Linked DNA regions of Homo sapiens. The protein of the gene in region 1 interacts with the protein of each later gene in a pairwise test. Each region holds a gene or a part of one and is shown on either strand. Other genes may lie near its edges.

What was found.
Region 2: the proteins of FGF14 (region 1) and SYT16 interact in binary tests that used the Homo sapiens proteins (3 or more experiments, as listed by UniProt).

The regions. Positions count from the first base shown.
Region 1 is NC_000013.11:101,710,919-101,717,945, reverse strand, and holds part of FGF14 (fibroblast growth factor 14), read left to right. Parts: 3' UTR 1-2,291; coding exon of another isoform or gene 2,292-2,383; 3' UTR 2,384-3,394; coding exon of another isoform or gene 3,395-3,508; 3' UTR 3,509-7,027. Other genes in the region: ITGBL1 (integrin beta-like protein 1 isoform 1 precursor), read right to left, coding at 2,292-2,383, 3,395-3,508. UniProt on the Homo sapiens protein: Probably involved in nervous system development and function.
Region 2 is NC_000014.9:62,074,689-62,081,715, forward strand, and holds part of SYT16 (synaptotagmin-16), read left to right. Parts: coding exon of another isoform or gene 1-5; intron 6-446; coding exon 447-703; intron 704-6,145; coding exon 6,146-6,586; intron 6,587-7,027. UniProt on the Homo sapiens protein: May be involved in the trafficking and exocytosis of secretory vesicles in non-neuronal tissues. Is Ca(2+)-independent.

The DNA.
Region 1 (7,027 bases):
CATGAGACTATGAAAAAGAGCAGCACTTTTGTTGTAGTTGTTGTTGTTAATAAAAAGGATAATAACATACAGAGGATTATAAGAAAAATAAGACATACCTGAGGTTTTGTGATGAGCTATAGAGAATCAAGGGCAGTTCCAGTGGAGCTGAGGCTGACAAAGTACTGCCCAGCTGCCAGCCAAATCCACCCTTAAGTTGCTTTTGTATGGCCTGGGAGCTCAGAAGGAATTTTTTAAATTTTTTTTACAGCTTTAAAGTATTAAACAGAAACCAACAAAGAAGAATATGAGACAGGGACGTACGTGGTCCGTAAAGTTTAACTTTCTGATCCTTAATAGGAGGATAAGCGCCGTGATAGAGAAATCCAAAGGTCATTTGTATTACGATGGCTAGATAATGTAATGAATTCCAATGTCTGTGCATCAGCGAATACGTCATCAAAATTGCTACAAAACAATAATAATAGGTTGTTCACAGCTTAAAATGTTTAGGTAGTGAAGAGGAAAGAATATAACCTACATTATTTATTGACTACTTATATTTCCCTCATTTTACGGAAGAGATCTATCAATTTACGTACTCAATAATAGAACTACAACATGGTTGCACTCCTTAATCTCAGGATAGAGATAACAATTTTTATAAATCTATTACATTATGAGAACATTGTTAGTACTATAAAAATCAGGATCAGTTAAATGTTCTCTTAAAATAATTTTCAATATTAAATTTTTAAGTAACTCAGTGGATGCATATTTTCCTTATTTTTGGAAATTTGACTTATAAAGTTTAAGCCATGACTAGAATATTTACATCATTAAAATAAAATTTCCAAGTAAAAATTTTCATCTTAAAGTAATACGGAAATGATTTTGCTACATTATTCTAGGATTTTACAAAGTAATTCACCTTTAGAAAAAAAGTGGTTTTTTTTTTAGCTCTAAATAATTAAAGGTTGCCTAAACTAATGTGTATAAGTAGATTTACCTGTAAATATGTAAGGGAAGTCCCAATTATTGTACACTTTCATAATTCAATGTGAATTTCATACAAAGCAAAGTTTCACCATTAAGAAAATAAACATTTTGTTCCTATCACTGAGTGAATATTTGTAATTTCTATTTAAGCCATTTCTAGATTTTTTTTTTTTTTTGGTCTTTTGTGAGCTTCTGAGATTGGTGCCATTTTATCACAGTATTTCTCGTCTTGACTTCTTTGCATGACCCCAGGTTTCCAGTAAGTAAGGTATCCTTAGAAAAAAAAGTATTTTAAGGGAAATGGATGCATACTTCAGGCCCATTTTATATGTAACTCAATATTGTCTTTTTAAAAGGCCACACTACCATGGAATAAATTAAAATAAAAAATCAGATTTCTTGTACGCATAACCCCTGCCCAGTTTTAAAAATGTGATCCCTTATTTCTAGAAACCTAAAATAGATATCCCTGAATAACAATTCATTTTTAATTATCAGTAGATATATATACTGACACAGAGTATAAACAACTTCTGTCACTATTTATTTAAAATGTTAAATTGTACATTTTTCATAATTTCTTTAAGAGAATCTTCTTTGGTGAGTTTAAAGTGAGAGTAGACAAATAACTTAGTGGCTAAATGATTTAATGTCAGATGACTTAATGACCAGTTTTTGCCCTTGATCCAGCCCCACTCTGATATTCTACCTCCTGTGTGCTTGTCTTCATTGTCCCCATATTAAAATGGTGACTGATACGGAATTCTGGAAAAATCTGATCGATTAATTAATGTGAATATGCATGTTTTCCTTAGATTCTAATATGGTCTTTCTTGTGTAAGAATGTGGATTTCTAATAGCCATATAACTCAATGTTTCTCAGTTTGAGCCCTATTGGCATTTGGGGCTGGATAATTCCTTGTTTGGGGGCTGTCCTGTACACTGCGGGATGCTCAGCAGCATCCCTGGCCTCTACCCACCAAATGTCTGCAGCATACCTTCCTACCCGACCCAGTGTGACAATCAAAATTGTCTGTAGATGTTGCCAAATGACTTTTGGGTGGAAAAATTGCTCTCGTTAGGAACCACTTATGTTAATTATGGAAGAATCTTTTTTTTCTAATGTTATTTGCATCTAAATTTGCATAACTCATTTCTAATAGGTACTCGGATTTCATTCGTAATTCAGAAATAGAAAAACATACAATGGTCTTTTTAACCTGTCCTAGTGGTGAATATACATGGTTTCCTTCGCATTTATCTGTTCTAATGGCCCAGAAAAAATAAGAATCCAGACCTCTCTCATGTAATTGTTAAGGATATTCTGAGCCAAGCCAGATTTCACATGCATTTCCATTCCATCCATCCCAGCATTCACAGTTTCCACAGCTACATATTCCATTCCCTGCAATAAAATACATATAGGTATCATGATTATGATCAAAATGTGCCAAATTTAAACATGCTATTATAAATCACAAGTGTCCACAATGAAATCATTTCATTCATCCTTGGTAGATTTTCTTATTGTGCAATGATGTTATTATTACATCTTATTAAGCAGCTGCGAGACATCTAATCTTTCAAACAATTAGTGGCATTTATTTGGTGCCACCCTTTACCGATCAGATAGTCACCATCCTGTATCACTCCAGCTAGGCTTTTAGGTGACAATTTTGTTTTCCCTTAAAGAGCAAGTTATATCTGACTTATGAATAAATACAGAAAAACATAAGGCTCTTTGACATAACATGAGGCAGGCCAAGTAATCCGTGAAGAGAGTCTTACGTAGTAAGGATGGGCAGAAAGCAAAGGTCTAACTTAATGACACACAAAGAGTCATCTTTTACCTTCAGCTAGAGCTGAGGAGAAGTATACATGTCTCTGTTTCCTCGTAACTTGGCTAAACAAATGAATTTATAACCAATTATGAGGACTCAATAAATTAGGATAGCAGTGGCTATGACACGGCTGAGCCCTCTTTATACCTCTCCCCCATACACACATCCAGTTCCCTAAAAGCAACCAACACATCAACTAGTGGTACCCAGATTCTGTTTAAAAGAATATTTCATTCCCTATACCATGTTCAAAGTAAAATGGTTGCCAACAAAATTCTTTTCTGTGTTCAATATACAACTGCATACATGTGAGTTTGAGGGTGGGGAGGTTACTTTGTGGAAGGATCCCAAATAATCACAAAATTTAGCTTCATTCTCTTGTATTCTTCTATGCCTAGGAATAATGTGAGGCTTTTGTGAGGGCTTTTTCCCAAATGCCCACTTCGCCTTTGGTAGATATTTCATATTCACGGTTGGCCCTGTTGGTCCAGCCACCTAAAGCATTGCATGACGAGTGTCTCTTGGCTCTATAACAAACTGTGGCATAGAGCAATTAGAAAAGGTTAATACTGCACCTGTACAAATGAGACCATCATGTTTGTCGCAGTCTCTGTCATCACAGTCACAGAACTCCCCAGAAATATACCACTCTTCAGCAGAACAAATGCACTTCCCACAATGACAAGAACCTGAAATTACAAAGGCTATTACTCACCATCACCTTATAACTAAAGGTTTCCATCTCGAATAGAATATCGTTGACACACTGACAACAGGCTTCTAATAACCCATCATCCAAAGGTAAAAGTGTATTGAATGGCTGGTTTCTCAGAGGGGAGCTTTACTTACTGTAATTCATAAAGGTCACCCAGGAAAGCCTTCATTATGGATCTAGACAGTTGCAATTAGCCTTGAACAAATGTCCCATGGCCCAGTCTGGTTGAAATGTCAATGAGAGCAGGATGGGGTTGATTCTTATAGATGGTCTTCCAAAAAAGTATTCAAAAATAGATTTTTTCCTCCTAAATTGAATCATGTTTTTAAAGTGCCTGCTCTTTAAAGGAAATGAATAGGGAATTGTATTAAATTAGGTTGCATTTCTAATTAAAACAACTACTAAATTATTGTGCTTATAATTTTGGATTTTCGTTTACATGATTTTCTTGGAGTAGGAGCACACCTGCATATTGGGTGGCTAATTAAAGTGCTAAAAATGCATACAGTCACTCAGTATATTTGCCTTGTGAGACTCATCCTCAGGACCCTCTGTCATAAACTGGGATAGCTCAAATTACTCCCAAAGTTCATATTTTATGAGGCTCTGGATTCAACTCTTTTTCCCTCCACTTCACCCATTTCTCCTACCTAACTAAAAAACTTCCTCTTTGGTTATTTAAAATATCTTTACTTACTGAGTAAAAATTTTATTAATGATATATTTAAAATAAAAGAAAATAAATGAGATGATGAATGGTATCCAAGACAGAAGTTCTCTCAGTCTAAACAGCTTTCCATGACAGACTAAAAACCCTTACATGGAAAAACTGCCTCAACGACAGCAGGAAAGACTTTACAATGAAAAAGAAACAAATAAAAAGGACTTTCTTTTCCTTCTGTTTCCTTGGGTTGGTTGTTCTTTCCAAACATGACTTCCATTTACTAAAAGATGGCTGTATTCTTTTTGAGTCAAAATCACGTTGAAAAAATGTGCAGTTGAAAAGAGTATTTTGACATATTTAACAAAACTGCAGAATTGGTAAGTTCAAAATATATTGAAAAGGGGCAAGAATCAATCATTAGTGCTTCTTTTAAAACACAGTGATTAAAAATGAGTTAACAGCCTGGGTGATTAAAGTGATCAGGAAAAAGGAGTTGTGGTCATCACAGATATCATGAAAGGATTCAGGTTCATGTGTCTCAACTATGTGATATTTCATATCAGGGAAACTGGTATATGCATTTCAGCTGCAAAAATCCCCAAAGTCCAAATTAAATGTTTGCCATTTCTTGACACACTTCTCAAAGTAAGAGTGCAGTCAGAATTATTTAGATTGTGACAATTGTGTTTTTTAACTTCTTGCGTAGCTATGGCATAATTGTATTTAGTCTTGACTTGTTTTCCTGAGGGTCCAGGTTGATTTGCATGCTCTTGAGGAAATATACACGTCTTCTCAGTTTTAATAATTGACTGACAGCCCTGTGGTTTCTCAGGACCCAGTGAGCTGCTGCTCCCAGGTCAGTCTGCAAAGGATGCTGGTTCCCTTGTGGTCTCATCAAGGTGAGGAATTTCCTGATTTTAGAGATTTCTTTATCCTAATTTTGAAGACTTTCTTTCACATTTCTAGGCATAAAAAAATGTACAGCACTCTACTGCTTGTTTAACAAATGGATAGTGATATATCTGCCAACAAAGACCACATGGAGTATTTCATTGACTATCAGAGAAGTTTCCTCGAAAGGCACCATACTTAGTGTTTTATTTCCATGAGTGAAGGAAAATTAGTTATTTGAAGTATTTGGCTGTCTTTAGTTGTTTCTAAAGTAGTGCTGATTTTATATGCCCATAATATTCATATATACACCCAGGATATCATTTTATATATGTCACAATTCATGAAATATCTTATATTTCATCTTCAAACTTATCCTCTGGCCCTGGAACTATTCTAATCACTGCTCTTGCTTCTGGAATGCTTAGCTTCATGCCATAGTAGAGCATTTTCAGAAAACTGGTAAGCTCAGCTAAAGCTAATATGGCATATATGGATAGAACATTTGATGAGTAAATTCCAGTTCTGAAAGTCTACTAGTCGCTGAAATACTTAGAATAAAAAATGAGGATTGATTTTGTATGTGTCATGAAACAGTAGCATTTCTAGGTCAGCATTTTCCCAGCTGTGTTATTCTTTCCTGTTTGTCAATGCTCAGTGCATCTTAGAGGTAGGAAATTATTCTACTGCTTGTGAAACTAGAACTAGATAGCACATAGTAATAACACAGTGTGAATAGTTATTAGGACCTATTATAGCACTTTTCCTGTAGAACGCTCTAGCTGTTTTCTTCCATAACATGGGTCAAATTGTGCCTCTCTTAAATGGGAAGCACACAGGGAGAGGGTTCCATCAGACAGATGTAGGCTGCATGACTATCAAGAGGTGAGAAATGGTTCAACTCAGCTGGCCAAGACCCACTCACACCCCTGAGACCCAGCCTAGCCAGAGAACAGCTGGCTGATCTTGGCAGGAGTTTTAGGGCAGATAGTTCATCACCACAGCACCACTAATCCATTCATTTTCTTTCTCAATATAAGGACCCTTGAGAATGTTCCCATCTCCCTTCTGTGCATTTTTGCTGGCTTCCATCCCTGGGGAATCAGCCACATTTTCTCATGTGTCTTCAGGGCATCTTAGGACATAGGAAGGGGAAAGAAATGAAATTTTACCTTCAAAGATGAGAATGGAAGAGAGAATAAAGGAAACTGTCCTGGACCTCACAGGCAATAAACAAACAGTTAACTGAAGACTTCACTCTGATTCAATCCACTCTTCTTTTTAGTGATCTGCCTATCTGTGATGTATCTCCAGGCAAAAACTTTCATATACAGTAGTTTAAAAATGAGCTGTTTCTTCCTGCAGGTCTGACTGCACAGGCATATTGAGCGAGGCAACTTGAACACCAGGCTGAGGCCGATTTTGTGAAGCATCTTTCACTCTTTCTCTTTTCTGGGGATGTGGGACAGGTTGTGGGTGGGTGAGTGTGTGTGTATGCTGGACTTCTTTGGAAGATGTGGGACCCAAGAAGTATCACTGTGAGAGTTTAAGGAGACAGTTAATGACATGTGTTTACAGCCATTGTCACACAACAGCATCTGTAAGAAGATTGGACGTGATTATCTGGATCTAGCTTGAAGTAGTCAAGGCAAAGATATAATTGTGTAGTCTTGAAGCCAAATAAATCCCCAAATGAACAAAACAACCCACAATGAATTATATCATGTACTTTGCAAAGGTAGCTAAGCTTAGGGAAGACCCGGCACTGCACTAACCTCATCTCTCTTGGTTATTCACAAAAACAATTTGAGTCTAAGGGCAAGGCACCTTTGTCAGTTGCCCATTCCATTACTAATGTTGGACTTTCTTTTTCATTCAAGCCTGACAAAATGCTGCAACCTGACATCCCAGCAGGCAGTTTTCACTATTGTACTAACT
Region 2 (7,027 bases), on another chromosome or scaffold:
ACTTGGTAGGATCACCAAAGCTTTTTGAGCAGAGGGTAATGTGGTAAACACTGAAGAGGAAAGGAAGCATGGTAGAGTCGGGAGACCATACGATCTCCATATTAGATGACTCTTTTTGCTTTTAGATCCATTGCAGAAGTCTTGTGGTCATTAGCTCCAGCAAAATGCTGTGTCGATTTTATCCTTTTGACATAAATATATATTCTCTACACTCATATTTAAAAAGTATTAAGCCTTCTGATACGCCACATAATGAGATAATGTTCTTTTTCATTTTATGGATCAAGTTTCTTCACTGTATGGATAGAATTATGTTTCTGCAGGTATTATTGGTATGGGTTCTGTTTCTGCAATCTTGATTGTTGTGACTGCAATTACTCAATTTCTCTAGGTAAAAAGGTGTTAAAAATAATGCATTTGAAATGGTTTTCTTATTGCAAATTTAGATTTGGATGGAGCCAGCCAACGGCGTTATTCTGAGAATCTCTCCTACGGTGAAGATGACCACATCCCTGCTCACTCACAGTCCCCATGTGAAAGAGGGGATGCCAAACACCACGGCACATCTCACCAAGAGTCCAGTGTGGTCCAAAGCCTCAGGCGCCAATCCACAGAGGGCAGCTTGGAGATGGAGACAGCTTTTAATAGCCGGGGATTTGAAGATTCCTATGCCACTGACAGCTCCTCCATGTGGAGTCCAGAGGCAAGTTATTTGTTTTTCATTCTTTCATTGGTTCCCTTTCCCCTTCCCCTCTTTCCACTCTCCTTTCTCATCTCTCTAAAAAAAAAAAAAAATTCCAGAAAGGAAGCATTACTTTTATCTGCAATAAATTTTTGTCCAGATGACCAAAATCCCATGCATGTCAATAAAAGAGTCATAAATTTCTCTCAAAATGGAAAAAAAAGGATGAACGGTAAAAAAAAAAAAAAAGAAAAAAAGAAAAAAAAATAAGAATGGTGGCAGAATGGATCCAGGAACAGCCAGGCTTTTCTTTTATATAAAGGCTTTTTATAGACTTAATTTTAAATAATGGAATTTTCAGTTCTTTAGAGGGACTGGTTTATTTACTTCATGGTTTCAATTAAGTGGAGTCTATTTTTATTTAGCCCAAATCTCAAGTTACGATTATTTGATATGAAAATTATTTGAAAATTGAACTAAAATGAAATGGCCTTCCAAGTGAAATTATACAAGGTGTAATGATGCAGATCTTGCACTGTGAATATATACAAAATATATTTTGTGCCTAGGAGACAGCATTAATCAGTAATGCCCCTCTGGCCATTGACATTGGTTTTGTAGTAAATCTCTGATAAAAGATACTTCTTCCAAAGTTCTTTTTCAAGTAAAGCTTAGTCCAGAATAAATGTAACAATCAATCCAGAGATATGGCTGGAGGTGATGATGGTAGTAGCTACCATTTATTGAGCAGTTAATATATGCCAGGCACTGTGATAAGGATTTTACCAAATTGTTTCCTTTTACTGGCCCTTACGGTTATTTTTCCATTAGATAGATCCCTCCTATCATGATTCTGTGACATTGGAAGGCATTAAGGAATGGTGTTTAATACCTAATTTGAAATTAATTTTGATGAAATAAGTCATATACATATATAAACCTTTAATATAATTTGCAGGGATGGGGGAAGAAGGAGAGAGGTGAATGGATTTTATTAGCATCCATTTGAGAAAATAAACAGGATGCATCTCTTATTAGGACTTGGAGTGTCACACACGCTAAATGCTCAAGGTAAAAAAAAAAAAAGGAATCACAGAAAACCCTGTTTCCAAGCCTTAACTGCTAACATGTTGGCGTGTGTAGGTAGTATCTAAGGAGGGGTATGCATACACATCTGTGCCCCTGTGTAGATGTCTCTGCTGAGGACCAGAAATGGTAGCTCACATATGTGGTTTGTGGCTTGTTAAAAAGCAGCCCTTCATATGGAGGCACCCAAAGCCATTAACTTTATACATTTTGTTTAAAAAAAGAAAAAACTCTGCTTACCCGTTAGTTTACTACCAAGCCGTATCAAATCCCACACACTAACTCTTAAAAAATATTTTGAATCTCTCTCCCAAAAACAAAACAGACCAAATGATTTGCCTGCCTATTGATACTCTGTCTCCTTGGTGATTGTGCCATGAGGCTTGGAAGTGACTTCTCCAGGTCACCTCCCATTTACCTGCCTGCTGGAGCTTTAATAGAAGACTCGGTATTGAGGGTACTAAATGTTCTCAGACTCCAAAAATACCCAGACATCTCTGTGTGCTCCATTCAACCTCCTATCTATTTTGAGAAAAAACTGTAATTTGGTGCTCCTACAGTAGAACCTCAAATCCAACTCGGAGGCAGTTCCCGTAACTGCCTGCTTTGCAGGCTTAGCTTGCCTTTTAAGAAATGATTTATTTGCCTCTTAGCTGTATTGAGAACTCTGTCTTCCCCTGTGTATCTGGCATCAGGAACATATTGTAGGCCTGTTTACTTTAGGCCACACAGATGACATCAACACTATCTTACTAAAACAGAAAGGCTTTCAATTTGACAGAAAATCTTTAAACCTACCTGGGTTTTGACAATTTGACACAAGTATTCTCATCTTAAGGAAAAGCCCAGGATATTGGAGCTCAAGGAATCATTTATTTTGTCTCAGCAGGAAACTGGTCGTGCAGTGTGACTACCTGTTAGGCTGATGGATTTTCGAGCTCTGCTCTTCTCTGCTGGCGAAGGCCTTTGGCTTTTTCCTGCAGACCCAGGGCTTGGCAGGAAAGACAATGGGAGTGTGGCTGGTGATTTTGAGCACACAGGGAGACAGGTGTCCCACTTTTCATCTCTGCTTTCCACTGATTAATTGGTTGGCCTTGAGAAGTTAATTAAAATCTGCCAAATGGGGATAAGAATGAAGAGATTTTTACCTTGCAGGAAGGTCAGATGGATTAGTGGTATTAACAGTACCCAAGTGAGGAGCTCCTTCAGTTGCCTGGTGAGAGGTAAAGTGTGTTGAAATAATTAATTGCTATGAAAATACCAGCATTCACAAATCTTTTTCTCAAATCAACCCAGGGAGGGGCTACAAAGCCCAGTTTTCATGGGCCACAGCTTGAATTGGCCTATCCAAAGCCCAGCCATTGGCAGGATCTGTTTATTCAGAGGAGTTCTTAGGACAGTCAGGAGCTCTACCCAGGACTCTCTTAGAAACCTGCAGGTGGAGTGAGCATTTATCCGAAGAGACAGCCTGATACATAAGTGGAGAGAGCTCCTCATTCACTAAAATATTTTTACCTTGGCATTGAAGTTGACAAAACTAAGAGCTATTAACTAACATTAAGAGCAGGGGCCTCAAAGGATGTGAAAACCACAGAGAGTGTGATTCCAACCCCCACCTTCCGTCTTCTCCCCCTTCATCTTGTGCGCTTGCTCTCTCTCTCTCTCTCTCTAGTGCTCTCTCGCTCTCTCTCTCTCTCTCTATATATATATATATAAACACACACACACACACACACACACATATGTCTATATGTAGAAATAGTTATGCCTAAAGGTTTGGGGAAGAAGAAAGGAGACTGTATGTTTCAAAATAAGGTTTGAAATTTTGAGTATTGGATACGAGTTAAGGCAGGCCTGGGACTCAAACTGCCAGGGCATGAGTCCTGGATAATCTTGTCTGGGAATTTGATCTGGGCTTGGGGGGAGAGAGCGTGTTAGTTATTTAGTCTTTCTAAGCTTGAGTTTCGTCCTCCATAAAATGAAGATATTAAAATACCTACCTCATTGCATTGATGTAAATATTCAAAAAGATAATGTTTCTTAGTTGGGTTCCTCAAAAAAGCAGAGCCTACGTAAAGGCTTTGTTCCCTGCTTTGGGAGTGCAACCCCAGGGAACAAAAGTGCGAGACAAGGGAAGTAAGGCAGGGAAGAAGGGAGGTCAAGTGTGAGAATACACAGTTGAATTGGCCACCACTCAGTATGGCTAATTGCCTGATCTTGTGTGATCACACTCCAAGAAGCTGTATGAACTGATAGGACAACTGACTACGGGGCAAAAAGTAGACTTCACATATATTGGTGTCAAGCAGGGTTCTGCAGCTGTCTAAGCCTTGGCGGTCGACAGAGAGACCAATGATAAGAAATGAGAATTATATTGTGTGGGTAGAAGGTAAGACTTTATTGAGTAGTTCCAGGCTGAAACTACTTAGAGCCCATATAGGCTGTGCCTTAGGGGAAGATGGAACATGAGTTAAGGCCAAGAAGATCTGAAGTGTTTAAGAGCCAATTTTTATAGTCTGTAAAGGATTTGATATGGTATTTGGCATAAGAAATAGTTTAGTAGATGTTAGCTATTATTACTTATGGTCAGAAATGCAATACAGAGATGATCAAGAGTAGGCTAAAATAGATGGGAGTTTTAGGAAGAGACAAGGGAGTTTGAGAGAAGATTCTGACTTGATTTTTGAGTTGGCCTAAATCCTTGGAGACTTGCTTCTAATATATATACACTAGTCAGTTGTATTCAAAAGTCTCTATAGCAACCACTTTTATCACTTGAAACTAAGTACCTCTGAATAGAAACACTCACGCATGATTGCATGCTCACAGGAAAGGATATAAGAAGCTTCACTTATTTTACAAGAAATCTAAATTTTCTTGCAGGCTAATTTGAATCTTAAAAGAAAAGGATATTTATTAGATGTCTACTGTCTGTCAAGTCCTCTACTTTTTACAACATCCCTACACAGAAGGTACCATCTCCATTTTACAGTTGAGGAAAATAGAACATGGAAAGGATTAAATGACTTGCCCAGTGTCATAGAGCTAGTAAGTGGTAGGCCTGGGCTTCCTAAGGAAATACGAACCCAGAGAACCATGAACTTTCACCCAGACTATGTGGGAAAGTTTCATTGATGGATGCACATTTTGAGGCATTGTATTATAATTTGAAACGAGATCTCTAAATTAGCAAGTTCTGGTGTTCAATTGCATAAATAAGAACTGGTTTGCAATAAGAATCAGATCAAAGTTTAGTTACAGGTAAGGATCATGCCTTCAGAGGAAAATAGAATTATTATTGACATTATTTATAATTTGTTAGTGGGGTGGTTCATTATAATAAATGCAGCCTAGCTCAGTTTTCCCAGTAAGGTCATCAGATCTGAGTGGCTGCATGTAAATTGCTACCCAAGGGTGACATTCCATAAAGAGGGATGTGTGTTTGAGAATAGGTAGCACCAGTCCAGTGGTGGGAATAGATATTTATGCAGTCTGGTCTAAGCCAGGTATTTTCATATCAATGAAAACCTCACAACAACACACCAGCAAGTAGGCACATTAATGTGCATTTTTAAGCTAGACTACCGAGAGGCTGGTCTATTTGGCCAGGGTAAAAAAGCTAGTCAGTGGTAGAGTTATGATTTCAATTTAGGTGTTCTGGCTCCAGGCTCAGTGTTGCTGTTTACTAAAGGGCTGTGGAGGTGTCCTCCTAAATCCTTGCTGCTCAAAGTGTGAGCCGAGGCTAGCAGCGTCAACATCCCTTGTGCCTGTCCCAGAAATGGCAGGATCTCAAGCTCCACTCCAGACCTACTGAATCAGAATCCTCAGATGATTTAGGTCTACATTAAAGTTTGAGAAGCTCAGCCCTAAACCTTTTCTCCCACTTAGATTGAAAATATACTGAAGCATCACCTTCCTGGGACTCCCATCAAAATTCTTGTCTGTAGAAAGCTCTTGCCTGTGGAGAACAGGCTCAGGCTCAACCATCTGTATTTAGGGACACAAGGAAAAGTTGCCTATGGACAATTGCCTGTTGACTTAATTTTAGATTTAGCATCTCAGTTGGTTTCAATGATCCTGGGCAATTGTGCTTTTTGAGAGGCAGTATATATGAAAACACTTTGCAAAAATATAAAAGCTTTAGTTATCCATTCCAAAAACATTCACGAAGGCGCACCATATGCTAGGCACTTTGCCGTCAAAGAATTCACAGTTTAATGCAGCGATAGACCAGTAAACAGACCTATCTGATATAGAGGGAATACACTGGCAGTTAGAAAGCAGGGATTCTGAAGGAGCACAAAGGGGCACCAACTGGCCAAAATGTAATTGGGTATCATCATTTCCATTTCTAATTGTTTCCTCTGCCTGCAACAGGAACAGGACAGGACCAATTTGCAGGTGCCATCCGGGGTCTCAGAGCCCATCTCAAAGTGTGGTGACCTAGATGTCATCTTTGAATATAGAGCCGCCAGCCAGAAGCTCACAGTGACCATTGTGAGGGCACAGGGCCTCCCAGATAAGGACCGAAGTGGTGTCAACTCCTGGCAAGTTCATGTAGTGCTGCTGCCTGGTAAGAAACACAGGGGCAGGACGAACATACAGAGAGGGCCCAACCCCGTCTTCAGGGAGAAGGTCACCTTTGCCAAGCTGGAGCCCAGAGATGTGGCTGCCTGTGCTGTCCGCTTCCGCCTGTACGCTGCCCGGAAGATGACCCGAGAGAGAATGATGGGAGAGAAACTATTCTATCTCAGCCACCTGCACCCAGAAGGGGAAATGAAAGTGACTCTGGTTCTGGAGCCAAGAAGTAATATAAGCGTGAGTATGTTAAATGGTGCTGCTAATGATGTGGTGTGTTCGAAGACCTGGGATTGTCAGCCCTTGATTTAGTACGTTCAGTCTGTGAATTCAGAGACTTTAATTTAATTTTCCATTTGGCTCTCCTCACCCTTGTAAGCCATGATTTGCACTTCATGGTACAATGGGTCTTTCATGCCTGTCTTCCTGATAACCTGATGGATAAATGCCCTGTCCATTTTAGGACAAAATAGCAGCAGTGTGGTAGAGGGCATGGAGAAAAACAGGGAAGGTGGCTTGGCCCTCTGGATTGTGGATAACTGATCCTACTCCTCCTGCCCCCAATCTGCATCATGATGAATCTCAGAGATGGGACTTTCTGGGCAAGGTTCTTAACGGGTATGCTGGGGCAGACTGAGAGAGCAGCCCAGAACTTCAGCTGCTTCTGAAACCTTTCATTTG